Regions from separate parts of the Homo sapiens genome. Here regions 1, 2, 3 and 4 are each linked to region 5. Evidence: fine-mapped expression QTL. A gene starts in region 5. Each other region holds a variant in brackets. All regions are shown on one strand. Distances are from middle to middle. Region 1 has its middle 280 kb from the start of LINC01644. Region 2 overlaps CELSR1 (cadherin EGF LAG seven-pass G-type receptor 1). Region 3 overlaps TTC38 (tetratricopeptide repeat domain 38). Region 4 holds the start of GTSE1 (G2 and S-phase expressed 1). Region 5 holds the start of TTC38 (tetratricopeptide repeat domain 38).

Region 1 (5,100 bases), 940 kb after region 5:
CAGGACAGCCACACAGTGCAGGCCTCTAGAACAGCATTGCAGTGCAGCTGTGATGAGCAGCGTGACAGTAGTGAGATGGTCCCGGGGGTAGGCGTCCCGGTCAGCCAGGCTCAGGTTTTGGAGACCTGCGGTAAATACCCTGGAGACAGGGACCTCCAGTTAGCAAGGCAGGAACTTCAGGAACTCGTGCCCTTAACGCCCCAAAAGGGGGCCAATGAGCTGACTCCCTTTACCCACAGCCTCCAGCGTGGGGGCCGTGCTTGGTTGTTATTTGGGAAGCTGGGGAATGGCTTTCTTTCATGAAAATGCTCCCAAGAAGGGCTGCAGTGGTAGGGCCTGATTCTAATGAACTGCATGAAGTTCACATCGGAGTTTCTGGGTGCCACATGCAGGGTTCTGGCAGGGGTAGCAACATCCATACACTGTGTCTGATTTCAGGGTAGATGTTTGGGACTGGCAGGGAAGGCAGCTGGCACCCTCTTCCCTTCATTTCCCTGCTCATGGCCCACAGATGTCCGTATGGGGTCCTGTCTCAAGGCGGACACAGCCCAGCATCCTTGGAAGACTCTCATCCTGGTGCTGATAAAAGCCATGAAACCGTGGAGGACAGAGCTGGGGGAGCCTCTTACATGAAACATGTGGAAGGTGTCAGCCTGCAGGCCCCTAGCATTTGCCAGGCCAGCATCTGCGTGAACCCCCGGAATGACAGTGAAGAGAGAAACCTGTTTCCCTGGAAGGAGAGGCCCATTTGGTGACCTTGAGATGCTGCCTTTTGGCCATGGCAGATGGGACTTAGGCAAGGCCTGGTTGGGCAGCCGTCCACGGGTGCATCCCTGTCTCCATGGTAGTGAGGCAGCTGCTGTGTCCCCAGGGCCAGCAACAATGAACGTGCTCCTCAGCCCACCTGTGTACTCAGGGGTCTCCACCTTGCCCTGAATTGGCTCCACTCCAGCAAGGCCGGCCCCTTCCCTCCCGCACAGAAGCCTGTCTCTTCTCACCTAGTGACAAGGATGCCCTCGTTGCCCGTGCTGGAGTGGCCTCCTCGGAGTCCTCCTCTGAAGAAGCTTTGCCCTTGGTGGGCTGAACCTGTTTCAGCAAAGACCCCCCTAAGCCCACTTATGAAGAATCTACACACTCTGAAATCAGATGAAGTCCCTTATCCCCCAGCCTTGATATCTGGTGAGGTCAGCTCCTCACTCTGCACGCTCCCGTCTCCCCGCTCCGCTTGCTGGCTGTGTGCCCCGACGGCATTGCTCTAGTGGGAGTTGAGCTCAGCTCTGTGCACGAGTCTCCCCTACAGCAGGAGCTGGAGTGGCATCCGCCTTGCTGTCTTTAACAAGCGTCCAGCGAATCATTTTTCTTTGGCATTATTCCGGGACTCCTTTCCAGCTGTGGTCCCCCTCTCTGTCCTGCATCAGGAATATTTCTTCCTCTCCTGGGCCACTCCCATCAGCATCCAAACAGGCCGCCTCACCAGTTTCCACCCCATTCTATCCCGTGTCTCTGCTTCCCTTCACAATAGTGGCCCACTGGCCATCCTGCCACTTCTCAGCCACACCTGACCCTCCGGTCCCGGCCTTCACTCTGCCCTCCGCCTGCGACCCTCCTCCCCACAGGCACACAGGGCTCGCCCCTTTGTCTTGTCAGCTCTTTGCCCCAGCGTTGCCTTTTTGGAGTTCCTCTGTGCTTGGCCCATCTCAGTGGACCCCAGCCTGTTCTCCCCATCCCTCCGCCCTGCAGCTTTGTCCCCTGTGTGCCCATTGCTGCCAGCCATGCTGCTTGTTTGCTCAGGGTGTTCTCCTCGGAAGTGTTGGCCCCTTTTGTTCACTGTCGTATCTCAGGGCCTGGAAGGATGCTGGACACACAGCGGGTGTTCACTGTGTGTTCTTAGACTGATGGGATTCTTTGACTTGGGAACTCGGGCTGGACACTAGAGCAGCGAGCCCTCAGGTGGCAGGTTAGATGTGGGTTTACGGAGAGAGAGCAGGTGATCGGTCAGGGTTAGATGTGGGGTGACGGAGAGAGAGCAGGTGATCTCTCAGGGTTAGATGTGGGGTGAGCTAGAGAGAGCAGGGGATCTCTCAGGGTTAGATGTGGGGTGACGGAGAGAGCAGGGGATCTCTCAGGGTTAGATGTGGGGTGACGGAGAGAGAGCAGAGGTGGAGGGAGTGGCTGGGTCCTCCTTACTAGTGGGAGCCACA[G/A]GTGAGGGATGAGGGATGCCTGCCTGGGGTGGGGTCAGAGTGTCCAGTGGGCTGGTGAACATTGCCGGGTTGTGGGGACGCTCAAAATACTTTCCTGTTCAGCCCACGGCCACCCCCAGAAGCTGAGACATCCTGACGGGGCCTCCGTTCCTGGCCACCTCCAAGCTCACACATCACGGAGCCCCCAAGCCTGGAGCAGCCCTCTCTGGTACTCGCCCCATTCGGCCCAAACACACACCCCGTTCTTTTGTTGGGCTCTCTTGAAGGCTGGGCCCCCGCCCTGTGGGTCTCCTCGCACTGCTTGGTCCTGTGTGGCAGGGCCACTTGTCCTTTCCCCTCTTCATTCCTCCCCGGCTCCCCGATGTCACCCTCCCTCCCAGGCTCCCCCATGTCACCCTCCTTCCCCAGCCTCCCTGCTGAGGCTACTTTCCCTCCCTGGGCACTTCAGGGACACTTCTGGAAGGCAGACGTGACCCTGCCTTCCCCTGATCAGGGACCCTCTGAGCTCTGCAGGGTTTTGGTGTGGGCACCTGTCTCTAATGTGCTCACAGCCCAGGTGCCCTCTCCATGGCCCATCTCTAGGCAGGGGCAGGCCTCTGCAGCAGTGTCTGCAAGGTGGTGGGCGGTGGTGCAATGGCAGGCAGGGGACGGGGAGGAGAGCATGGCTGCTGTGGTCCCCCAGGACAGCTGCGCTTAGCCCCTGGTGTGGGTTTGTGCATTCACGGGCTCCGTCCCTACCGTGGACATCATCTGGTCATGGCAGATGTGGTTTGTGCAAGCCTGGGATGGACGTGGGTGGTGTGGAAACCCAGGCTGGTGGCAGGGCCTCTCGAACTCGGCCAGGCTCTTGCACTCCACGTTGTGTGGCTTTGGACAACTTGCCAGGCCTTTTGGAGCCTCTATTTTTCCATCCGTGAAATGGGCGTATAACACCTCCCAAGGCTGGAGGCCACAGTTAAAGGAATGTGACCATCTCCTGTTGCAGGAGGATCCCTGAGTGACTCTTGGGGGGAGATGTTATAATTCGCTTGGTTTCAGTCCCTCCCTCAGAATCCTGGGAAGATACTCCAGCCTGGATATTCCAGTCCTTTTCATCATTTTCCATTATTCAATGGAATTACTGAATTATTCCATTATTTAATGGAAAATGGAGAGGTGGCAGGAAAGTGCCCTCCAGGGCGGGAGGCAGGAGGCAGGGCTTGGACTCTGGACCAGATTGAAGACTAGCTAAAACAGGGAAGAGCCTAAAGCACCTCCTATAAGACACACCCACCGGTGCCATGTCAGTTTACCATTGCCATGGCAACTCCTGGAAGTTACCACCCCTTTCCATGGCAACAGCCCAGAAGTTATCATCCTTTTCCTGGAAATTTCTGCATAAAGTGCCCCTCAATTTACATGTAATTAAAAGTGGGTATAAATATGAGTCCAGGCCAGGCACAGTGGCTCACGCCTGTAATCCCAGCACTTTGGGAAGCCAAGGCAGGCAAATCACCTTAAGGTCGGGAATTCGAGACCAGCCTGGCCAACATGGTGAAACCCCGTCTCTAGTAAAAATACAAAACTTAGCCAGGCATGGTGGTGGGCGCCTGTAATCCCAGTTACTCGGGAGGCTGAGGCAGGAGAATTGCTTGGACCTGGGAGGTGGAGGTTGCAGTGAGCCGAGATTGTGCCGCTGCACTTCAGCCTGGGTGACAGAGCAAGACTCTGTCTCACAAAAAAAAAAAAAAAAAAAAAAAAAAGTGGGTGCAGCACTGCCTTTGAACTGCCGCTCTGGGCACACTGCCCATGGGATAGCCCTGCTCTGCAAGGAGCAGCACCTCTGGTACCACTTCAATAAAGACTGCTGTCTAACACCACCAGCTCGCCCTTGAATTCTTTCCTGGGTAAAGCCAAGGACCCTCCCAGACTAAGCCCCAATTGTGGGCCTGCCTGCCCTGCATCATGGGTGTTGGACTCCGGGTGGTTTGGAAGTGCTGGTTCTAGTATCAAAGACCCACACATGGATGTAGCTCAGAATGCTTTTGTGCCCGGGAAAAAGTTTGGGGTGATGTGGTTCTGTCACCTAAAGGGTCAGTCAGCTGGGCTGGTGAGAACAATGCTCTTGGCTGGAAGTAGCAAAGAAAATTGCGAGTCACTTTCAGTTATTTTCTGCCTCTTTCATGGGCTTTTCTAGACAATTTCCTTGTTTTCTTCCCTTGAGGTCTGGTCTCATTCTTCCAGCAATGACGTGGTGGATTTAAAAAACGTCCACCATAGTCTTTTGCCATTCCTCCCTCCAAGAAACAGAGGCTAATTTCCTACTCTCTTCACACATAGAATATGGAAGAAGTGGCAGTGAGGAACTTCCCAGGCCAGGTCAGAAAAGGCACTGTGGCTTCCCCTCTGTCCTCTCTTGATCACTTGCTCTAGGGCTCCTGCTGCTGTGGTGTGGGACCTTCGAGCAGCCTGTGGAAGTCATCCTGTGAGGAACTGTGGCCTCCCCCAAGCAGCGCATATTGGAGGCAGAGGCTTCAGCCCCAGTCAAACCCTCAGATGATGGCAGCCCCAGCCAACGTCATGACGCAGCCTCTGGAGAGACCCTGAGCCAGGGCCACCCACCCGAACTTACCCTGGATCCTGACCCACAGAAACTGCAAGTCGATAAAGGTTTGCTGTTGTTTTAAACTGCTAAATTTTGGAGTACTTTGTTATGCAGCAGGAGATAACTGACACAAATACTAAGAGTTGAGAACTTTTATTAAGCCTTTTCTTTGTGCCAGGCACTGGGCTAAATGCATCAAAAGGATCTCACCATCTTCCCAGCAGCCCACAGGGAGCAGAGGTTTTCATTACCATCATTCTCAGAGGACACGACTGGGGCTCAGAGAGGGGAAGAAACCTCTCCAGCTTGCACAGC
Region 2 (5,100 bases), 150 kb after region 5:
CGTCCACTCTGCAGTTGAGGCCAGCAAGTGTCACGGAGGCAGGGAGTGCATGGACACGGTGCTGTGGGTGACCTGAGACGCACAGACGGGGGTCCCCAAAGCATTAAACGCAGAACTACTACATGACCCAGCACCACCAGCCCCAGGCGTGTACCCAAAAGAACTGAAAACAGGAACTCAAAAACCAGTTCATGAGTGTTGACGGCGTTGCTATTTACAACTCACAAGAAGTGGAAACCACCTAAATGTCCATCAGTAGATGAGTGGGCAAACTGTGGCCCATCCCTGCACCGGAATCGCAGCCACCGAAAGGCACGAAGCGCTGACACACAACGGTGCGGGGGTCCCGGAACACATCGCGCTCAGTGAAAGCAGCCAGACACGAAAGGCCATGCACCGCGTGACTCCATTCCTACACAATGTCCAGGACAGGCACATCCACAGACACAGAGCAGACAGATGTTGCCAGGAGCTCAGGGAGGAGGATGGGGGGTGACTGCTAATGGTATGGGGTGATGAAAATACTTCTTTTGAGATGGAATCTCGCTCTGTCACCCAGGCTGGAGTGCCGTGGCATGATCTCGGCTCACTGCAACCTCCGCCTCCCAGGTTCAAGCGATTCTCCTGCCTCAGCCTCCCAAGTAGCTGGGACTACAGGTGCCCATCACCACACCTGGCTAATTTTTGTATTTTTAGTAGAGATGGGGTTTCACCATGATGGCCAGGCTGGTCTCGAACTCCTGACCTCAAGTGATCCACCTGCCTCGGCCTCCCGAAGTGCTGGGATTACAGGCATGAGCCACCGTACCATCCAGCCTGGGTGATGAAAATATTTTATTATTTTTTAAAAAGTTACTATTGGTTAACTGATGGCATGAAAACATTTTAGATCTCAATAGAAGTGGTGTGGTACAATACTCTGAATATACTAGAAGCCCCTTTAAAGCTTAATTTTATGCTATGTGAACTTCACCTCAATAAGGAAAAAATTAAAAAAAAAAAAAGATTCCTGGGTGGGCATCCCCCCTCACCAGCCCCCTGCCACTCTCCACCTGAAGAACTTTCGGGAAGATCCTTCCAATTTTTCCCTGACATGGAGAGAAAATGCATTATTTGGCCTTCCTGCCAGGTGGCTATGAGTGATAAAACGCAGTCAGAGAGGTGAACATTCTCCAGGAGGGGTCGAGAGGCGCATGGACAATTACACAGGCGGCTTGAATAGGGATAAGTGAAAACAGCAGCAGATGTGTGTGATCTGGGCTCAGATCATCCATTTTTGTCAAAGGAAGACAAAGTGCGTCTCCGCTGAAAGGCCGGCGTGGAGCACGAGGCGGCGGCAGAGAAAAGACTACGTGGTGGTAACAGCTCCCGACTGTGGGGTGGCGTGTCCGCCTCTGAGTTTTCCAGCCAGGAAAAGCACTTGGTGGCTTGGCTGGGTCACAGCTGACGATGAATGGTACAGGTTGCAGAGGGGGGCGGATAAGGAATGAGACAGACGAACCGCCTCCTCACATTTCTAAGAGGAATTTTTAAAGTTTGCCACATATTTATACAAAAGAAAAAGACAGCGTGGGAATGAAGGGGGCCACAGGGTTGTGTCTGAGTTTTTTCTCAATTCTTGTGTTGGAAAGCGCCGGGCACAGGATGGGCCAAGGCCAGCACGGTGGAGGCCCCAGCGCCCCGGCACCTGCCCTTCCAGGGCTCAGCTGGGTACTGCGCAGCAGCCGGCCAGGCCCAGAGGACCCCCCCCAACCCCTGCACCAACACCCCTTGCAGGAAAGGCAATTCCCAGGCCTCGCTTCCAGGACATAAAGCTCAGTAGCTGGACCTGGTCACTCAGGCCGAGCAAGGCAGGCAGCGCACACAGTGACTGGAGACAGCAGGGGCTGCCCACGGTACCTCTACACCCCTCGGCGGGCAACCCTGGCCAGCACAGGCTCCCTGGGGCAGGCGGAAACAGAGCCAGCAAGGAAAAGCCACATGCTCACTCCTGCAGCCACCTGAGAAAAAACCTACAGTGCCGCTGAGCACTGCAAGGAGTGGCCCAGAAGCGCTAAGCTGTGCAGATCCGGAATCCTGCTCCAGGAGTCATCCCCGGGGTCCAGCCTCTTCTTATTTTCCTTCGAGGTATTTTCTTCCCTGCGTGCAGGCCCTCCTCCTTGGCTTCCACTCAGCCGCTCTACGCAGTGCTGGGAGTTTCTGTGTGCGCACAAAAGCATTTGGTCCTTACGAAGTGCTCACATTTCTCCAGCCTTTTAACCTGCTGCAGACGATTCTGCATTGGGAGGCCGGTGGGGGTACGGTTTCAATGCTGGGGAAGGTAGCAGGGGAAGGCGGTGTGGGGGGGTGGGAGGGGCACGTCTTAGGAAATGAATGAATTCATGCTCTGTGTCAGAAATGATTAACCAACGTTCATATCAAAGAATTCACAGATGGCTGGACCTCAGGAATGTCTGTACAGAGTCAAACTGCAGCGCTGAACGTTCCATGCTGTCATTTCTCAAGATGACAAAGTTCAGGCCTGTCTGGCCGACAAATGCCCCAGGAAATGTGGGCAAGACCCCGTGCCAGTTCTGGCATGGAGACGACAAGCTCTCCCTC[G/A]GAGGCAGCCACTGCAGTTCTCCGAAGCTGCTTGGGAAAGTGGTGGGAAGGGTCACGAGGAGCAAATTCACGCAGATGCACGCAGCCTTCCAGAATTCAAACTGGCCTCCCAGGAGCCTCGGACAGGACTTTGCCAGAATGCAAACCTCAGACCGAGCTGCTACTTCCTGGTGGTCCCAATACCCCTAGGCAGGTAACAGGACCCTGTTCCGCCAGGTAGCCACCCTCTACACAGGGGCTGCCGGCTGCTTTTGATGACCTGGCTCGAAGGGTGCGGTATTCCCCCAGGGCTGTCAGCAGCAAACCGTCTGGAAGCCCAACTGAGCCACTGGGCCACCGGGTGGGGAGGGCAGCTCCACACTATCCCAGGTTGTAAGGGGAACTCAAGTTCCTCTGCCCAACTCTGGCTGAGGGGGACAGGTGCTCCTGAATCCCTCACCTGCCAGGGACCTGGGGCAGAAGACATACTCTATGAGCCTAGGCAGACTCTTCTAGAAAGGGGGTAAGTGCATAGCTGCTATCTCTAGGGCTGTTTGGGAATGAAATGAAAGGACGGATCTGAAACTGTGCAGTGTCTGAGCTGGCGTGGCTGATATTACTATCATCCTCATTCTCAACTCAGAGTCCAGCTGGGCGGGCCCAAGGCCGGCGGGGGGCTCACAGGACAGCAGTGTCCACAGCATCCAATGGACATCACCTCCTTAAAGCCAAGGGTCCATATCCTGCCCCTACTTGGGAAAGTCACATGACTTCCCTGCATGCCAGGACTTGGCTGTACAACTGGGGGTAAAAATAGCATCTTCCTCGTGGGACGACATGAATGACATGTGTGAAGTGCTTGCAGCCATGCCTGCTATTGTTACTTCTTGAAAAGATGTGAAGAAAAGCAAAATAACATGCAAGTGGTTTTCTCAAGTTTTGCTGTTTTAATACTTCCCTATATTAAAATAACATAATACAGGGGCTGAACGCAGTGGCTCACGCCTGTAATCCCAGCACTTTGGGAGGCCGAGGTGGGCGGATCACTTGCAGTCAGGAGTTTGCGACCAGCCTGGCCAACAAGGTGAAACCCCATCTCTACTGAAAAAATACAAAAAAAATTAGCCAGGCATGGTGGTGGGGGCCTGTAATCCCAGCTACTTGGGTGGCTGAGGTGGAAAATCGCTTGAACCCGGGAGACGGAGGTTGCAGTGGGCCGAGATTGTACAACTACACTCCAGCCTGGGCGACAGAGCAAGATTCCGCCTCAGAATAAATAAATAAATAAATTAAAATAAAATATAACATAAAATCATAAAGTTGATTTTTACATCTTTAAAGAAAAAAGCAGCAAGTAAGCAACTCGTGCAATTAGCCTCTCCGCTGAACCCGCAGGCTCTTCTCCAGGAGCTAAGACGCAAAGCCACCTGCAGCTTGGAGTTCGGGCACTGGCCCGCCATTTCCTCCATTTATTCAACTATCCAAGAAAGTAATGCACGGTGCTATTAGGCTTATTGTGGGAGCATTAGAAAAGTTTTCAACAAAGGTCAGAACCAACCGGTCACCTAGAGATTCTTAAAGAAATCACACAAAGCCTTTTATTTCTCAGGCAAGGGGGTCTAACCCGTTTCCCCGATGATTCTGGCCAAAGACAAAAGTGAGGAGCTCTGTGCTTTCCTGATGGACGTATACAGTACATTTGGAAACACAAGAACCGTGGGTCCGGAGGCAGGAGTCCCCTGGGCATGCGTGTTCAGCACTGGACGGAGATAAGCTCCTCCTACAGAGCTCCATGATCCCCGTGGTAGTTAATTTTGTTCTGGAAATGATCCAGCAGGGCACCGTGCCAGCCCCCACTGAGCCAGACCCTGGACCAAAGCCCCCAGTTCCATGGGAGGAAGCCAGGGCCATCTCAGCCCTGCTCCTTTGGGGCTCAGCCATCGGGACCAGGTCACCTCTGCGGCCAGGCTACTCCCCCAGGTGTTTTGGGAGCCTGGGAATTATATGGGGATTTGCTCAGAGGGGGGTCTTCTTGCCAATGACAAATGAAGGGCCAAAATGCAGTGAGATACAGCGCCTTCTTGGAAAGCAACACGTTCCTTCTCTTGGGGATTTTATAGGCAAAAAGTTGCTTGGTACAACCTGAGGGACCCTCCTCAAGCACTCAACAAGAAGCTCACTCATGTTCCTCTATGGGTGGGAGGCATCTCAATCCTAATGCTACTCCCAGCTAGAGAAATCCTGACAAGCGGGACAAGGAGGAACGCACACTTCCGAGCTGCAGCCTCCCGGGGCCTGCCTCCTCCACACGGGCACCGGGACAGAGTGCCTGGGATGGGGCCTCTGAGCTCAGCCCCCACAACACAGTAGCCTGAGTGTCCCGGGAAAAACAGGAGAAAACTTCAGGAAGGATGGCAGGTGGGCTACAGTTCCCTCGAAAATGACTTTTCTGAGCAAGCAAAAAAGCTTACCAAAAATGTGTACACTCGCCCACTCACACTCACGTGTGTACACTCACCC
Region 3 (5,100 bases), 22 kb after region 5:
GGCCCAGGGTTGGGCAAGAGCTCATGGGTGAGCCGCTCCAGACCCCTCTGCAGGCCTGGCCACTGCCTTGGGTACCGTTCTGCAGCTGCCTCCCAGCTGGCCCAAAGCTGGAGAGGGTGTCCAGGCCACACTACTCTTTCTTCCAGTTCCCACCGCTCCTCGATGTGGACGCCTCCAGCTCTGCACCCAGGGCGGCACCTGCTGTGCTGTTCCCATGGCTGGCCTGCCTGCCAAACCTTCGGGGCACTGGTAGCACCTGGCCACCTGTCTCGATGCCACCTCCTTTCCTAAAACATGAGAGAGTTTCTCAACTCCCTGGGATTGTAGACAGGTTTCTCAACCTTGTCATGCTCTGCAGGTAGCCTGGAGGGACCAACCACAGCTCTGGGGGCTCTTGAGGGCTCTAGCCAACCACTGGGGTGCCAGATGGTTCTCCCCTTGTCTCAGGCTCAGCAGAGTCACCCTGGAACCACAGAGGCCTGGGCTAGGCCCTGGGTCAGCAGTACGATGAGGGCTGAGCAATTCAGGGACCTGAGGGAGGGCATGGCAGGCTGTTTCTAGAGATTCAGAAGGCTTCCTAGTGGAGGTGAAATGTGAGCTACTGAAGCATATGTGGGGCTTGCTGGGCAGAGACAAGGGAAAGAGTTACTCTCAGAGAAAGCAGACCATCCAAAGCTACCGGGACATAGAAGCCAGCAGCCTGCTGCGGGACAAGGGGCTGGAGGGCAGGCTTGATGTGGTCAGATGGGCCAACAGCAGGCTGAGGGGCACAGGAGCCAGGGAGCCCACCTGTGGGAAGGGCAGGCTGAGGCTGGAGACCCAGAGAAAAGTGGGGAGCCTGGGGGATCCTTGGGGAGGTCGGGGGATCCATTGGGAAGCCAAGGGTTGTGTGGGAAGGCCGGGGGATCCAAGAGGCCTAGGGTTTGTCAAAGCGGCCAGAGGCTTTGTTTAATAACCTTTGACACTTTTTAAAATGTGCTTCCTACTTACGCGTCTATGGCCTCTATAATTAGACAGTCCTGATAGAGGCCTAAGCACAAGGCCAGACGCTGCCCGTGGCCCTGCCCACCTCCCCGGCCTCTCACCTGGGACAGGGTCATCAAGGCCTCCAAGGGAAGCGCCGTGAGGGAGGCCCTTGCACGGGACATGCCCCAGAGCCTCACTCCAGGCCCTGGGTCTCCTCCCCATGTCCTCAGGAGTGTCTGTGGGCCAGCGGTGGCAGGATGTCCTGCCTGTGGCCCGGAAGCACAGCCGAGACCACATCCTGCTGTTCAATGACGCACACTTCCTGATGGCATCCCTGGGTGCACACGACCCCCAGACCACACAGGAGCTGCTGACCACCCTGCGGGACGCCAGCGAGTATGCAGAGGGGCCTTCTCGGGGTGGGGGTCCTCACCCTGCCGAGAGGGTGAGGGGGTGCTAGGGCCATGCTGAGACCTGTTCAGTGCCTGCCCCGCCTGTGAGTGCAGCAGGGGGGATGCCCATGGAGGCAGCTCCCAGGTGTGCACCCCTATAGATGTGCATCCCCTGGTGCAGACCCCCAAGGTGTGTACACCCACAGCTGTACAACTGGTTGCCCCAAGACACAGAGCTGCCTCCATCCCCAGGGTGGGTATGAGATCCGCAGGGTCACAGGGCTGCCTCCCGTGGAGAGGACACAGTGAAGCCCTGAAGCCAGAGACACCTGCTGCTTACAGGCCCTGAGGTCCTGGACGAGGTGCTTCTGTGCTCTGAACCTCAGTTTCCCCATCTAAATCAGGGCGATGCCTGGCAAGAGCTGGTGAGGGCTGACCTGGAGGACCTGGGCTGCCCTGCCCATTCCCTTCCGGGGGTGATGATTGCCTTGGCTTGCAGTGCCAGGCCTTTGCCTGTATTATCAGCAATCCTGACGGTTCTGTTAGATTGGCACTGTTATGCCTGCTTACAGATGAGCAAACTGAGGCTGGAAGGTGGGGGACCAGGTAGCTGGAAGTGGGCGAACTCCAACCCAGCTCTGAGCTCAGT[A/G]CCCTGTCCTGTCCCCTCGATGGGCTGCCCCGCCTGTCACCTCACCTCATCAGTGTGGCATGTGTCAGGCACTGGACCAGGGACACCTCGCTGAGGAAGAAATGGCTCTGCCCTTCCCGGATGTTCTGTGATGGGCAGGCAGCTGAGGGCACCGTCTTGGGTTCGCAGATCCCCAGGGGAGAACTGCCAGCACCTCCTGGCCCGAGACGTGGGGCTGCCCCTGTGCCAGGCCCTGGTGGAGGCTGAGGACGGGAACCCTGACCGCGTCCTGGAGCTGCTCCTGCCCATCCGCTACCGGATCGTCCAGCTCGGTGGGAGCAATGCCCAGGTGAGCCGATGGCCGCCAGCTGGGGTGCCTAGGGCCTGGGCCAGGGAGTCTGGGCGCCCCGCAGCCCCCAAGTTTCTCCCATGGTGTTGGTGCCAACAATGTGGGTGTGAACGTGTCTCTCACACTCCCGCCGTGTAAGTTCGTCGTTGAGGGTGTGGCATCAACACCACTGTCTCCCTGGAGAGCAGGCAGCCCGCGGTGGGCGGGGGCTCGCCTCCCCCATCCTGAGGTACAGGAGACTCACATGCCCGATTGACATTTCAGAGAGACGTCTTCAACCAGCTGCTGATTCACGCGGCCTTAAACTGCACCTCCAGCGTCCATAAGAACGTAGCCCGGTGAGCTCCTGGCCCCTGCCCAGCACTCCCGACCTTCACAGGCTCTCCCTGCAGACCTCAGGAGTGCCTGGAAGCCCCACCACCCTTGGCCCGAGATGCTCCTGCTTCTGAGGCTGTGAGGTCGGGAGGCTGTGGGGAATTTGGTTCTCCTTTGTTAGCAGGCTCAGTGTGACCAAGTGGAGCCAGCCCCACCCCAGGCCCAACCTCCCACCCTTCCCAGCCCACTCCCTTTTAGCCTTGCTAAGCTACCTGGGTACGTAAACACGTCCTGCTCTTTCAGGCTCCTGGGCCTTTGCACGCTTGGAACACCCTTTCTCCTTTTTTGCACCTGGCCGACACCTAATGCTCAGTTAGACCTCAGCTCATTTCACCTGCCTGCCTGTGCTGGGTACCGAGAGGGAGCAGTGAGCAGGCACACCAGTCACTGGCTACCAGGAGCCCATCTGTAGTCGGGGGAGCGACAGGGAGCAATCAGTCCCACAGACACGTAAACTCGCACTGAGGGAGCAGCAGCTGAGGGCAGACCCGAAACCACAGTGGGTTTAGCCAGGCCAGGCATGGGGCTGGTAGGAGGGTGGCGTGGCTGGAGGGTGAGTGTTAGGGTGGCATGGCTGGAGGGTGAGTGTGTTAGGGCAGCGTGGCTGGAGGGTGTTAGGAGGGTGGTGTGGCTGGAGGGTGAGTGTTAGGAGGGTGGCGTGGCTGGAGGGTGAGTGTTAGGAGGGTGGCGTGGCTGGAAGGTGTGTTAGGGTGGCGTGGCTGGAGGGTGAGTGTTAGGAGGGTGGTGTGGCTGGCAGGCGAGTGTCAGGAGGGTGGCATAGCTGGCAGATGAGAGTGCTGGGGGAACTCCAAAGAGCCCTCACCATTGCCAGCAGCCTTGGTGCTTCCATGGCCCAGCTTGCCTCCCTCCACTTAGGCTGCTGAGCTCTTGGCCAGCAGCTGCGTAGCCCGTGTGCCTGAGCGGCGAGTTTGACACCTCTCCTTGCCCATGTCCCTGCCACCCTCAGACATAAGTGAAAGGAAGAATAGAGGAGTCATGGGGTGCCTGGTGGGGAAGGTGTGCTGTGAGAGCAGGTGGCAGCCCGGGTCCACAGGAGGCCCTTGGCTGGTGACAAGCCCAGTGGTTTAGGCGCAGGTGCACCAGCGCAGCTCCCTCCAGGCAGGGTTACCCAAACTGAGCTGTACAGGTTCTGTGGTACTCATGAAACAGGTCTGGCTGGCAGCACTGGAACCGCCTAGAACTGTAAAATGTCTTGGACGCATGCTCCCCGCTTTCCCCTTCCATGGCTGTAGACAAAACCATGCGTGTTTCTTTGGTGGTCAAGCCCCCTGGGGAGCTCAGGCTGTGGTGTGGGTGGGAGTTGGTGCCTCTGGCAGCAGCGGTGGGGAAAGTGGCTGTGTGGACAGGAGGGCTGAGGATGGAGCTGGGGTGACATCTGTGGGGCAGTGCGGCAGTGCCGATGTGGCCTTCTGCGGGGCCCAGTGGGGGAGGGCAGGGGGAGAGCAGGCTGCACAGGGAGCCGACTGCATTAGGAGACGTGGAGGGGGCCTTCTCTCCAAGTCCTGTCCTGCTACCAGGCAGCATCCATGGGGCCATCAGCACAGCTCACCAGCCCCCAAGGTGGGAAACCTTCCACCCACAGCCATGGTGCCCCCCACAATGAGTTCCCGGCCCCAGCCCCTTCACACCACCCACGCCCTCTAGAACCACTGTTTTCAGGTGTTTGGGGGCTGTCTTAGTCAGTTTGGGTTGTTATTTTAAAAGTGCCACAGACAGGCCGGGCACGGTGGCTCATGCCTGTAATCCCAGCACTTTCGGAGGCCAAGGCGGGTGGATCACCTGAGGTCAGGAGTTCAAGACCAGCCTGGCTAATATGGTGAAACTCCGCCTCTACTAAAAATACAAAAAATTAGCCGGGCGTGGTGGTGGGTACCTGTAATCCCGGCTAGTCGGGAGCCTGAGGCAGGAGAATCGCTTGAACCTGGGAGGTGGAGGTTGCAGTGAGCCGAGATCGCGTCATTGCACTCCAGCCTGAGTGACCGAGGGAGATTCTATCTCAAAAAATTAAAAAATAAAAGTGCCACAGTCTGGGCGGCTTGCACAGTAGGCATGCACTGTCTCACAGTTCTGGAGGCTGGAATGTCCAGGAACAAGGCCTGGCTGGGTTCAGTTTCTGCTGAGGCCTCTCTTCCTGGCTTGTGGACAGCCACTTTCTTGCTGTGTCCTCACATGACCTTTCCTTTGAGTGCTAATTCTTTCACGTCTCTTCTTTCTTCTTTCTTTTTAAATTTTTTTATATTTTTAGAGGCAAGGTCTCACTCGGTCATCCAGGTTGGAATGCAGTGGTGTGATCACAGTTCACTGTAAACTCAAACTCCTGGGCTCAAGGAATCTTCCTGCCTCATCCTTCCATCGTGCAGGGATTACAG
Region 4 (5,100 bases), 30 kb after region 5:
GCTCTTGCACCCCTGCCATGACCTCTCCAGGTCAGGGACAGCATCTGTCCCCAGCATCACCTGGCACATGGCCTGCACTGAGTAGCTGTCAGTGAAAGTTGGTGAATGAAGGCATAAATAAATGAAGTCAAACTCTGTATTAGGCCTTCTTGCATTGCTATGAAGAAATACCTGACGCTAGGTAATTTATAAAGAGGTTTAATTGGCTCACAGTTCTGCAGGCTTTTCAGGAAGTATGGTGCTGGCATCTGCTTCTGGTGCAACCTCAGGAAGCTTAAGATCATGACATAAGGTGATGGGGAGCCAGTATATCACATAGTGAGAGCAGGAGTAAGAGAGAAGGGGAGGTCTTAGACTCTTAAATAACCAGATCTTGTGTGAACTAAGCAAGAACTCATCACCAAGGGGATGGTGCTGAACCATTCATAAGGGATCTGCCCTCACGACCCAATTACTTCCCACCAGGCCCCACTTCCAACATTGGGATCACATTTCAACATGAGATTTTGAGGGGACACACATCCAAACTACAGCAAATCCTATTGGGGGCAGAAATGAATCTGCCATACATAGGCCACACCTACTATGTGCTGACATGATACAGGGAGAGGAGTATCAGGAATGACTGTTGGGGATCCCTCTGCCATTCTCCCATGAGCAGACATCCCCAGGATGAGCTGAGGGGAATGCAATGAGCAGGCCAAACTCTTTCCAAGCTGTTTGACCACACCCACCTACCCCAGCACTCTCAGCCCCTGCCTGGTGCCCTGTGCTGAGCTGGGTGAGGCTGGGGAGACTGGTGAGTGAGGGCTGCCCTGCCCTTTTTGAGCCCCCAGTCTTCTGGTGAAGGAACATAGCAACATGGAGTGATTGGTATGGATGATGCAAAACCAGGGACATGGGACCCAGAAGTGCCCGAGCCAGCCTGGAAGGCCTCTGCCCTGGGCCCCGGGTGGCTGTTTGCTGCACAGCTCTCCCCACAGCCTGCCCCAAATAAACAGCTTATCTTCGTCCCTGAAAATGGTGCTCTCGAGTTCCATCCTTTTCAGAGCGGGTCCTCCCAGACTCCTCTTCCTGCATCCTCCTCCATCCCGCTTAGTGACACTTTGCCGTGGGTGGAGCCCCTCATTTGATCCTCAAGCCCCCGAGGTGGGTATTATACCTCGTTCGCAGGCAAAGGCTCAAGCGAGGTCAGTCTTAAGTTGCTGCCCACTGACCCGTCTACCAGTCCTGTCCTTGCGTCTCCATGGCTCAGGTCAGGGTTATCCTATCTGCTTCCCACCTCTCTCCAACACATGCACTCCCCAAGGCAGGCTCCATCACCGGGCCCCAGCCCCTGGCTCTCTCCTCCAACGCAGCTCCCCAGCCGGCCTGTAAAACCGAGGACAGGCTCCCGCCACGCCCTCGGCGGTCCTCAGGCCTTGGCGGTTGGGGAAGCCCGCCAAGGGCGACGGTTCCCCTCCAGCCCCACAGGCTGTGCAGCTCCGGCAATGAGTCTCCCTCAGGTCTCTGGGTCAGCCGGCGCCCCAGTGCGTGCCTCGGGGGCAGGGATCCCGGCTTTTCACTACTGTTAGTAACAGCTCGCGCGCGCTGCTTCACAGCAGGTGGGTGAGCCTACTTTTAGTCTTCCCATCGACACCCTTAGATGGCAGTTTTAACTTTCTCCCTACACACAAGGAGCTGCTATACATGGTTCCGGCTTGACGCGGATACCTAGTGACACTTGGCGGCCAGGCCGGGCAGACTTCCGGGTGGGTGATCCCTGGCGCTGTGCGGAGCCATTCGCTGCGCTGAAGCAGTGCGCATGCGCACTGGACGCTTCTTACCAGCGTCCTGACTACAATACCCAGGACGCACCCAGCCCGCCGCCTCTCGGAGCCCTTTTCAAACCGACCAATCGGCAACCCGCGTCTCCCGGCGCCGCGTTTAAATCCGTGCCGGAGGCGCGTCCTGCATCGTCTGCCGCTTTGGGTAAGGTGGGGTCAGGGTCGGGGGCGAGGCTTGCCCGGTGGGCCCGGTGCGGCGCGGTGCCCGCCGTTTTCGGGACGGGGAGGGGCCGCGCCCCGCCAGGAGCCGGGCCTGGGCTCGAGCAGGGGTCACTGAGGCCCCTCGCGCCGTGGTCGGGGATGCCGGGAGGTCTAGGGCTGCCCCCCAGGCAAACAGAGCCCCCAACACTCTGGCCCAGAAGCCGAGAATTCCGTTATCTCGTCTGATGGCGTTCGGGCTGACTCCCGGCCTGGCGGCACTCGGGCCCTGGGGTCCCCTGGGATGCGATCATTTCAGAGCGGCCCCCGCGCCGCCTCTCCCAGACCTGGCCGCGGCCTTCAGCTCTCTCTGCCTCTGTGAGCCGAGGGCTGAAGGAAGCCGGAGCCCTGGGCCCTGACACGTACTCACTTTCTGGCCCCGTTCCACCCTGCAGTGACTTCTGACAGCTCTCTCCATGGAAGGAGGCGGCGGCCGCGATGAGCCTTCAGCCTGCCGGGCAGGGGACGTGAACATGGATGACCCTAAGAAGGAAGGCAAGTCCTTGCTGCTGCGGCGCTGTTGTTGTTCAGGATGTTCAGTAGAGATGGAGGGTGATTTAATGTTTCCCTGAGAAATTCTTTCTCAAGTGCTCGACTTGTACTCTGCACCTGTGAAACACATGACATCTGCCTTCGTTTTCTGGTTTTCTTTCACCTCCTCCCCATTTTAAGTTTCATCACAGCCAGGATTCTCATCCGTTTTATTTACCGCAGTGCTCCCATGCCCTGAACAGCACCTAACACTTTGTGGGCTCTCAAATATTTATTGTATTGAATTCGATGTTTTCTTTTTTGTTTGTCGCTGGTTTCTGTTTGCTAAGACTTATTTAGGATCTTTGAGACCATGTTAATGAGTAAGCCTGGCCCCA[A/C]ACCCCTTTCTTCTTGTGTCTTTGACTGGTTTGGGTATCAAGGTGAGGGTACAGCTTCACAGAATGAGTTACAGGCCACACCCTCTTTTTCTCTCAAAGCGTTTTTATTTATTTATTTATTTATTTATTGACGGAGTCTCGCTCTCTCACCCAGGCTGGAGTGCAAAGGCGTGATCTGTACTCACTGCAACCTCTCTCTCCTGAGTTGAAGGGATTCTCCTGCCTCAGCCTCCCTAGTAACTGGGATTACAGGCACCCGCTGCCACACCTGGCTCATTTTTGTATTTTTAACAGAGACGGGGTTTTGCCATGTTGCCCAGGCTGGTCTCGAACTCCTGAGCTCAGGCAATCTGCCTGCCTCGGCCTCCCAAAGTGCTAGGATTATAGGTGTGAGCCACCTCACCCAGCCTCACAAAGCATTTTGACATCCCTTGGGTAGTTTTCTCACACTACCCAAGGATCCTTTCTTTTTGAGACCAAGTCTCACTCTGTCTCCCAGGCTGGAGTGCAGTGGCATGATCTTGGCTCACTGCAACCTCTGCCTTTCGGGTTCAAGCGATTCTCCTGCCTCAGCCTCCCGAGTAGCTGGGATTACAGGCACCCGCCACCACACCTGGCTGATTTTTGTATTTTTAGTAGAGATGGGGTTTTACCATGTTGGCCAGGCTGGTCTCAAACTCCTGACCTCAGGTGATCCACCTGCCTAGGCCTCCCAAAGTACTGGGATTACAGGTGTGAACCACCGCGCCTGGCCCCAAGCATCCTCAATGCCTCCATTTTGCAGGAACTGTCCTGGAGACTTTACAAATCAATGTTGCATCTTCATATCTAGCAAGGCGCTTGCCTCTGCACCCCTCTCCTCCTTCCTGTCATGTCCTTCCTTTCAAATATGTCCTTTCCACGTGCATACTGCACCCCCTGCTCCTTCTTGAGGCCTTCCCCACTTCCGTTGACCTGACTTCATTTCCTTACTTTTCCCCTGTCCACTACTGGATCATGCGCATCCACATACAGATAATGTTCCCTTGTCTCACTTGTCGCCACGTCTCCTCCGTTGCCTCTCCATTGCTGTGTTTCTCCTTCCAAGCCAAACTTTGAGAGCTTTCTCACTTGTTATGCCATTTTTTTCCGCCTCTCAATCCCTCCCATTCCGGCTTCTGTCCTTACCACTCCATTCAAGCTGCTTTCATCAGTCGTTGACGACTTCCACATTGCTGAATCTCTTTTCACTTTTCTATCGCCAGTCAGCTTTTCAGTAACATTCGTCCTTCTGGAAACTTCCCTTGCTTGGAGTCCAAGACGCTCTTGGTTTTTTCCTCCTGCCTCTCTGGCTGGTGTATCTTTTCTCTGTCGGGGGCTCCCCCTCTGCTGTCTTCTGAGGCTGATTTCCCCAAGACCTGCTCTGGGACCGCTTTGTGCTTTCGCCCTCAGGGCGGTCAGCATTCCAATAGCTGTGCAGCGTATCTGCTCTCTGCGGCACCCACGTTTTGTCTTGAGCGCAGCCTCTCCTCCGAGCTCTGGGCTTGTATATTCACCTGCCTATTTGGCGTCTTCACATGCACGTCTCATCTCAAACTTGGCATACCCCCTCTGCATCTGCATACCCTGTTCTTTTTGTCTTTCTCATCACCCATTTTATTTCTCCATTTCACCCAGCTGTGCAAGCTGAGAACCTCCTACATTCATGCCATCACCAGCTAACGTCTTCTCCACCTTCAGAAGATATCCTGAATCCATCTACAGACTCTCCATCTCCATCCACATGCTGCTGTCTGGGTCTCAGCCACGCTGTCTCACCGGCTTCTACTTCCCGTTGGCTAATATGTGCATTTGTAATGTCAGGGGATATTATCTGCTTCCTTTCGGATACACTTTCTACACAGTAACGTCACCTTTTAAAAACACAAGTTAGATTATAAAGCTCTTTTCTTTTCTTTTTTCTTTTTCTTTTTTTTTTTTGAGACAGAGTCTCACTGTTGGCCAGGCTGGAGTGCAGTGGCGTGATCTCGGCTTACTGCAACCTCCGCCTCTTGGGTTCAAGCAATTCTCCTGCCTCAGCCTCCTGAGTATCTGGGACTACAGGCGCCCGCCACCACGCCCAGCTAATTTTTTTTTTTTTTTTTTTTTTTTTAGTAGAGATGGGGTTTCACTGTGTTAGCCAGGATGGTCTCAATCTCCTGACCTCGTGATCTGCCCGCCTGGGCCTC
Region 5 (5,100 bases):
CAAATCCTAAAGCTCCAAAATTATCTCCTTTGACTTCATGTCTCAAATCCAGCTCATGCTGATGCAAGAGGTGGGTTCCTATGGTCTTGGGCAGCTCCGCCCCTGTGGCTTTGCAGGGTACAGCCTCCCTCCTGGTTGCCTTCGTGGGCTGGTGTTGAGTGTCTGCAGCTTTTCTAGACTCATGGTGCAAGCTGTTGGTGAATCTACCATTCTAGGGTCTGGAGGATGGTGGCCCTCTTCTCACAGCTCCACTAGGCGGTGCCCCAGTAGGGACTCTGTGTGGGGGCTCTAACCCTACATTTCCCTTCCACACTGCCCTAGCACAGGTTCTCCATGAGAGCCTTCCCCCTACAGTAAACTTCTGCCTGGCATCCAGGTGTTGCCATATATCTTCTGAAATCTAGGCAGAGGTTCCCAAACCTCAATTCTTGACTTCTGTGCAACTGCAGGCTCAACACCACATGGAAGCTGCCAAGGCTTGGGGCTTGCAATCTCTGAAGCCACAGCCCGAGCTCTACATTGGCCTTTTTCAGCCACAGCTGGAGCAGCTGGGACACAGGGCACCAAATCCCTAGGCTGCACACAGCTTGGGGACCCTGGGCCCAGCCCACAAAACCACTTTTTCCTCCTGGGCCTCCAGGCCTGTGATGGGAGGGGCTGCCATGAAGACGTCTGACATGCCCTGGAGACCTTTTCCCCATTGTCTTGGGGATTAACATTTGGCTGCTTGTTATTTATACAAATTTCTGCAGCTGGTTTGAATTCTCCTCAGAAAATGGAATTTTCTATCACATTTTCGGTCTGCAAATTTTTCAAACTTTTATGCTCTGTTTCCCTTTTAAAACCGAATGCTTTTAACAGCATCCAAGTCACTTCTTGAATGCTTTGCTGCTTAGAAATTTCTTCTGCCAGATACCCTAAATCATCTCTTTCAAGTTCAAAGTCCCACAAATCTCTAGGGCAGGGGCAAAATGCTGCCAGTCTCTTTGCTAAAACATAACAAGCATCACCTTTGCTCCAGTTCCTCATCCCCATCTGAGACCACCTCAGCCTGTACCTTATTGTCCATATCACTATCAGCATTTTGGGCAAAGCCATTCAACAAGTATCTGGGAAGTTCCAAAATTTCCCACATACTCCTGTCTTCTGAGCCCTCCAAACTGTTCCAACCTCTGCCTGTTACCCAGTTCCAAAGTTGCTTCCACATTTTCAGGTATATTTTTGGCAACACCCCACTCTAATGGTACCAATTTACTGTATTAGTCCATATTAGTACTCAGCTCAAGTGCAAAATTTAAGGGTGGAGGGGCACCAAAAACTCAATAATCAAGACAAATTCTCTTTTATTGAGGTAAAGTTCACATAAAAGTAACCATTTATGGGAGGCTGAGGTGGGAGGATTGCTGGAGCCAGGAGTTCAAGGCTTCAGTGACTTATCATCCCTATCCCCTCAGTCCCTGGTCACCACCAATCTTCTTTCTGTCTCTATGTTTGCGTATTCTGGACATGCATGTAAATGCACTAATACAAGTGTTACCTTTTGTGTCTGCCTCTTCCTTCAGTATGAATGAACCTTGAAAACGCTGTAGGAAAGGTGTGTCTTCTTTGGAGAACTGTCACCTCAAATTCTTTGCCCACTTTAAATTTGGGCTGTTTGTCATTTCGCTGTTGAGTTGTAAGAATTCTTTTTTTTTGAGACAGAGTCTGGCTCTGTTGCCCAGGTTGGAGTGCAGTGGCACAATCTTGGCTTACTCCAACCTCCACTTCCCGGGTTCAAGCGATTCTCCTGCCTCAGCCACCCAAGTAGTTGGGATTACAGGCATGCACCACCACGCCTGGCTATTTTTGTACTTTTAATAGAGATAAGGTTTCACCATGTTGGCCAGGCTGGTCTTGAACTCCTGACCTCAGGTGATCCACCTGACTCAGCCTCCCAAAGGGCTGGGATTACAGACATGAGCTGCTGTGCCCGGCCAAGATTTCTTTATGTATTCTGGATTCTAGACTCTTACCCAATATATGATTTACAAATGTTTTTTCCCATTGTGTTAATCTTTTCAGTTTCCTGAGTAGTGTCCTTTGATTCAGAAAAGTTTTTAATTTTGACGAAGTCCAACTTATCTATTTTGTTGTTGTTGCTTGTCCTTTTGGTGTTACATCTAAGAATCCATTGCTAAATCCAAGGCCATGAAGATTTACTTCTGTTTTCTTCTAAGAGTTTTATCTTTACAGCTCTCACATAAAACAAATAATACTTCAGTGCAATATTTCAAAAATCAAAACTAATGCAAAAAGTCCATGATGAACAAAATAGCATTTTAAATAAAGGCCAGATCTGCCCGTGCACTTGGTTCTACGCCCTTGATTCGTGCACCCTGGGGCGGGGGCAAATTAAACTAGGGGAGCCCATTGGACTGGGGCTGGTGTGTGGCTGATGGCAGAGTTCAGGCCGGGCCAGACCGGGCCAGTCCAGAGGGAGAAGCCGCTACTGCAGGAGACAGAGCGATTTTTCCGCTGCAAATCCTTGAGAAGGGAGGATGGAGGCGGCGGGACGACCCAGTGAAGCCGGCCCCGAACGCCAAGTGAGTGTGTGCCGTGCGCGCGCGGGTAGCTGCCGACCGCAACGACATAAACTTGAAAGTGACCGCTGTCCCGGAGCTCCCTGCTCCCAAGGGACCCGTCGCGTTGCAGAGTTGTCCGGTCGGGCCTCTGGGGCGGGCCCGGATCCTGGACCAGGGCCAGTCTGTCCGAAACCCACCAGTGAGCGAGCGGGAGAGCGCGGCCGCCCCGCCCCGCCCCTTTCCGCGACCGCCCCGCCCACTCCCAGGAAGGCCCGGGTGCCCAGAGCTCGCGGTGGACTCCGACCCGGCGCAACATGGCCGCAGCCTCGCCTCTGCGCGACTGCCAGGTACACGGAGGCTGCCCCCAACCAGGTCCCCCTCGGGCCCCGGGTCCTGGGGGTGGCCCGGTGCTGGCGGAATAACGGGAGACATGGCCCGGGCGCGGGGCGTGGGGTGAGCCCTGGGCGCACGGGCGCGTCCGCGGCAACGCCTGGAAGGGACCCGAGGCCCTTCTTGTAGAGTCCCCACCGAGGGAAATAAGGGACGCCTGTCAGGGTACTCGGGAGACCCCAAGACCTCCTAAAAAACGTAGCTCACTGGGCATGGCTGGGGACGCAGGGAAGCCCGCAAAGGTAAGGGGCTCCTTGGAACCGGCCCAGGACTGGGAGCCTGAGCCCATTTTACAGATGAGGAAGGTGGAGGTCAGAGGGGCCAGGAGACGTGTGTGTGTTGAAGTTTGAAGGGCTCCTGGAGAGAAGGCACTGCTATTCCCTTCTTGCCGTCTGTAGGCCTGGAAGGATGCGAGGCTCCCGCTCTCCACCACAAGCAACGAAGCCTGCAAGCTGTTCGATGCCACGCTGACCCAGGTATGCCTGCCGAGAGAGGCCGCGGCCCCTTCTGTGGAGGTCTAGGGGAAGGTTTTTTAATTGGGGAAAGCTGTTTTTTTGTTTTGTTTTGTTTTGTTTTGTTTTGTTTTTGAGGCGGAGTCTCGCTCTGTCGCCCAGGCTGGAGTGCAGTGGCGCTATTTCGGCTCACTGCAAGCTTTGCCTCCCGGGTTCACGCCATTCTCGTCCCTCAGCCTCCCGAGTAGCTGGGACTACAGGCGCCCGCCACTGCCCTCGACTAATTTTTTTTGTATTTTTTAGTAGAGACGGGGTTTCACCGTGTTAGCCAGGATGGTCTCGATCTCCTGACCTCGTGATCCGCCCGCCTCGGCCTCCCAAAGTGCTGGGATTACAGGCGTGAGCCACCGCGCCCGGCCATGGGGAAAGCTTTTTAAATTGCGCCATGACCTTAGCAATAGATGGCAGCACATCTGTGCACTTTGTACTGGAGGACGTGGGAGGGTGGGGACATATCTCTGCCCCCCCCCCACAGCGTCCTAAAAGGGCCTCTGCACTCTCCCTTCTTCCCCAGGACTCTGAGTGGTGGGTGGACAGCGGTGGGTGCAGTGGGGATGTTTTTTGAGGATGCTGGCCTCCCCGGGCCTCCCATTGTGGCCTGCTGAGGGTCTGATGCAGGGCTCGGCTGCTTAGGACGTGGGATCCTGTCCTGGGATGAATCTGTGAGTATACTGCCTTCACCTAGGCTGTGCCAAGACCTTCTGCCACATTACCAGTCATTTCTCTACCAATGAAGGGTCCTATAGTTTTAGAACTAGGAGAAGTCTCAGAAGTAAGATCCAACTAGCTTCCTTGACAAGTGGGGAAACTGAGGCTCAGAGTTGAACCTACTTGACTTGAAGGTTGTCCATGAATTACAGGCAGAACCAGGATGAACCTGGGCCTAACTGCACTGATAGAAACCTAAGCTGACCTTGGCGTGGGTGGTGAGGCCCCTGCATACTGACTTCATCCACATAACAGGAGGACTCAGGTAGCTCTTAGAAGCCTACGGGCTGAACAAGAGAGGACTGATGGAATGCTGTGAGCTGCGCCATGGGTGCCTCTCCTGTTCCCAGCCTGCCCTGCCAAGGGACTCTGCTGTGGGCATCTGAGTTGTTTGTTTATTTTGTGTTTGACCTGGCTCACTTGCCCTTCCTGTATCTCGCCGGCCTCTGTAGAGTACTCGATTTGTTTTTTGTTTGAGACGGAGTCTTGCCCTGTCACCCAGGCTGGAGTGCAATGGCGCAGTCTTGACTCACTGCAAACTCTGCCTCTCGGGTTCAAGCGATTGCCCTGCCTCAGCCTCCGAAGTAGCTGGGATTATAGGCACGCACCATCATACCCAGCTGATTTTTTGTATCTTTAGTAGAGACGGGGTTTCACCATGTTGGTCAGGATGGTCACAAACTCCTGACCTTGTGATTCCCCTGCCTTGGCCTCTCAAAGTGCTGGGATTACAGGCGTGAGCCACTGTGCCCGGCCCCTAGTACTCAGTTTGTTACACACCACATCCCCAATCAGTGGCAGCTCATCCTCCCAGCCTGGGTATATTTTGTCCCGTGTATTGGTGTCTCTGTGCTGTCCTGTGTTAGAACTTGGCTTCTTTAAATCTCTGTGCCAACCCTCCTGTATCTTGTCAAAATGCTTGCGTAGCT

The links. PIP is the estimated chance that this variant, and not a neighbour inherited with it, causes the effect.
Region 1: its variant is fine-mapped to the expression of TTC38 in pancreas (GTEx, PIP 0.91).
Region 2: its variant is fine-mapped to the expression of TTC38 in substantia nigra (GTEx, PIP 0.91).
Region 3: its variant is fine-mapped to the expression of TTC38 in whole blood (INTERVAL, PIP above 0.99).
Region 4: its variant is fine-mapped to the expression of TTC38 in whole blood (INTERVAL, PIP 0.95).

Annotation. Positions count from the first base shown.
Region 1 is chr22:47,202,882-47,207,981 of GRCh38, forward strand. No RefSeq gene overlaps it. Among named protein-coding and RNA genes, the nearest start is that of LINC01644, 280 kb to the right of the region's middle. The variant G/A (reference allele first, on the strand shown) is at 2,202.
Region 2 is chr22:46,414,636-46,419,735 of GRCh38, forward strand. The region is part of intron 5 of CELSR1 (cadherin EGF LAG seven-pass G-type receptor 1); the gene reads right to left. Among named protein-coding and RNA genes, the nearest start is that of TRMU, 81 kb to the left of the region's middle. The variant G/A (reference allele first, on the strand shown) is at 2,602.
Region 3 is chr22:46,287,227-46,292,326 of GRCh38, forward strand. TTC38 (tetratricopeptide repeat domain 38) reads left to right here. Exons shown (of 14, transcript NM_017931.4): 11 at 1,197-1,362; 12 at 2,176-2,335; 13 at 2,600-2,673. Among named protein-coding and RNA genes, the nearest start is that of GTSE1-DT, 6.9 kb to the right of the region's middle. The variant A/G (reference allele first, on the strand shown) is at 2,008.
Region 4 is chr22:46,294,961-46,300,060 of GRCh38, forward strand. GTSE1 (G2 and S-phase expressed 1) reads left to right here and starts at 1,910. Exons shown (of 12, transcript NM_016426.7): 1 at 1,910-1,971; 2 at 2,420-2,519. The coding sequence starts at 2,441. GTSE1-DT (GTSE1 divergent transcript) reads right to left here and starts at 1,700. Exons shown (of 1, transcript NR_024009.1): 1 at 183-1,700. RefSeq lists a silencer at 1,968-2,167 and an enhancer at 2,318-2,427. The variant A/C (reference allele first, on the strand shown) is at 2,894.
Region 5 is chr22:46,265,165-46,270,264 of GRCh38, forward strand. TTC38 (tetratricopeptide repeat domain 38) reads left to right here and starts at 2,844. Exons shown (of 14, transcript NM_017931.4): 1 at 2,844-2,908; 2 at 3,350-3,427. The coding sequence starts at 2,876. RefSeq lists silencers at 2,741-2,900, 2,911-3,120.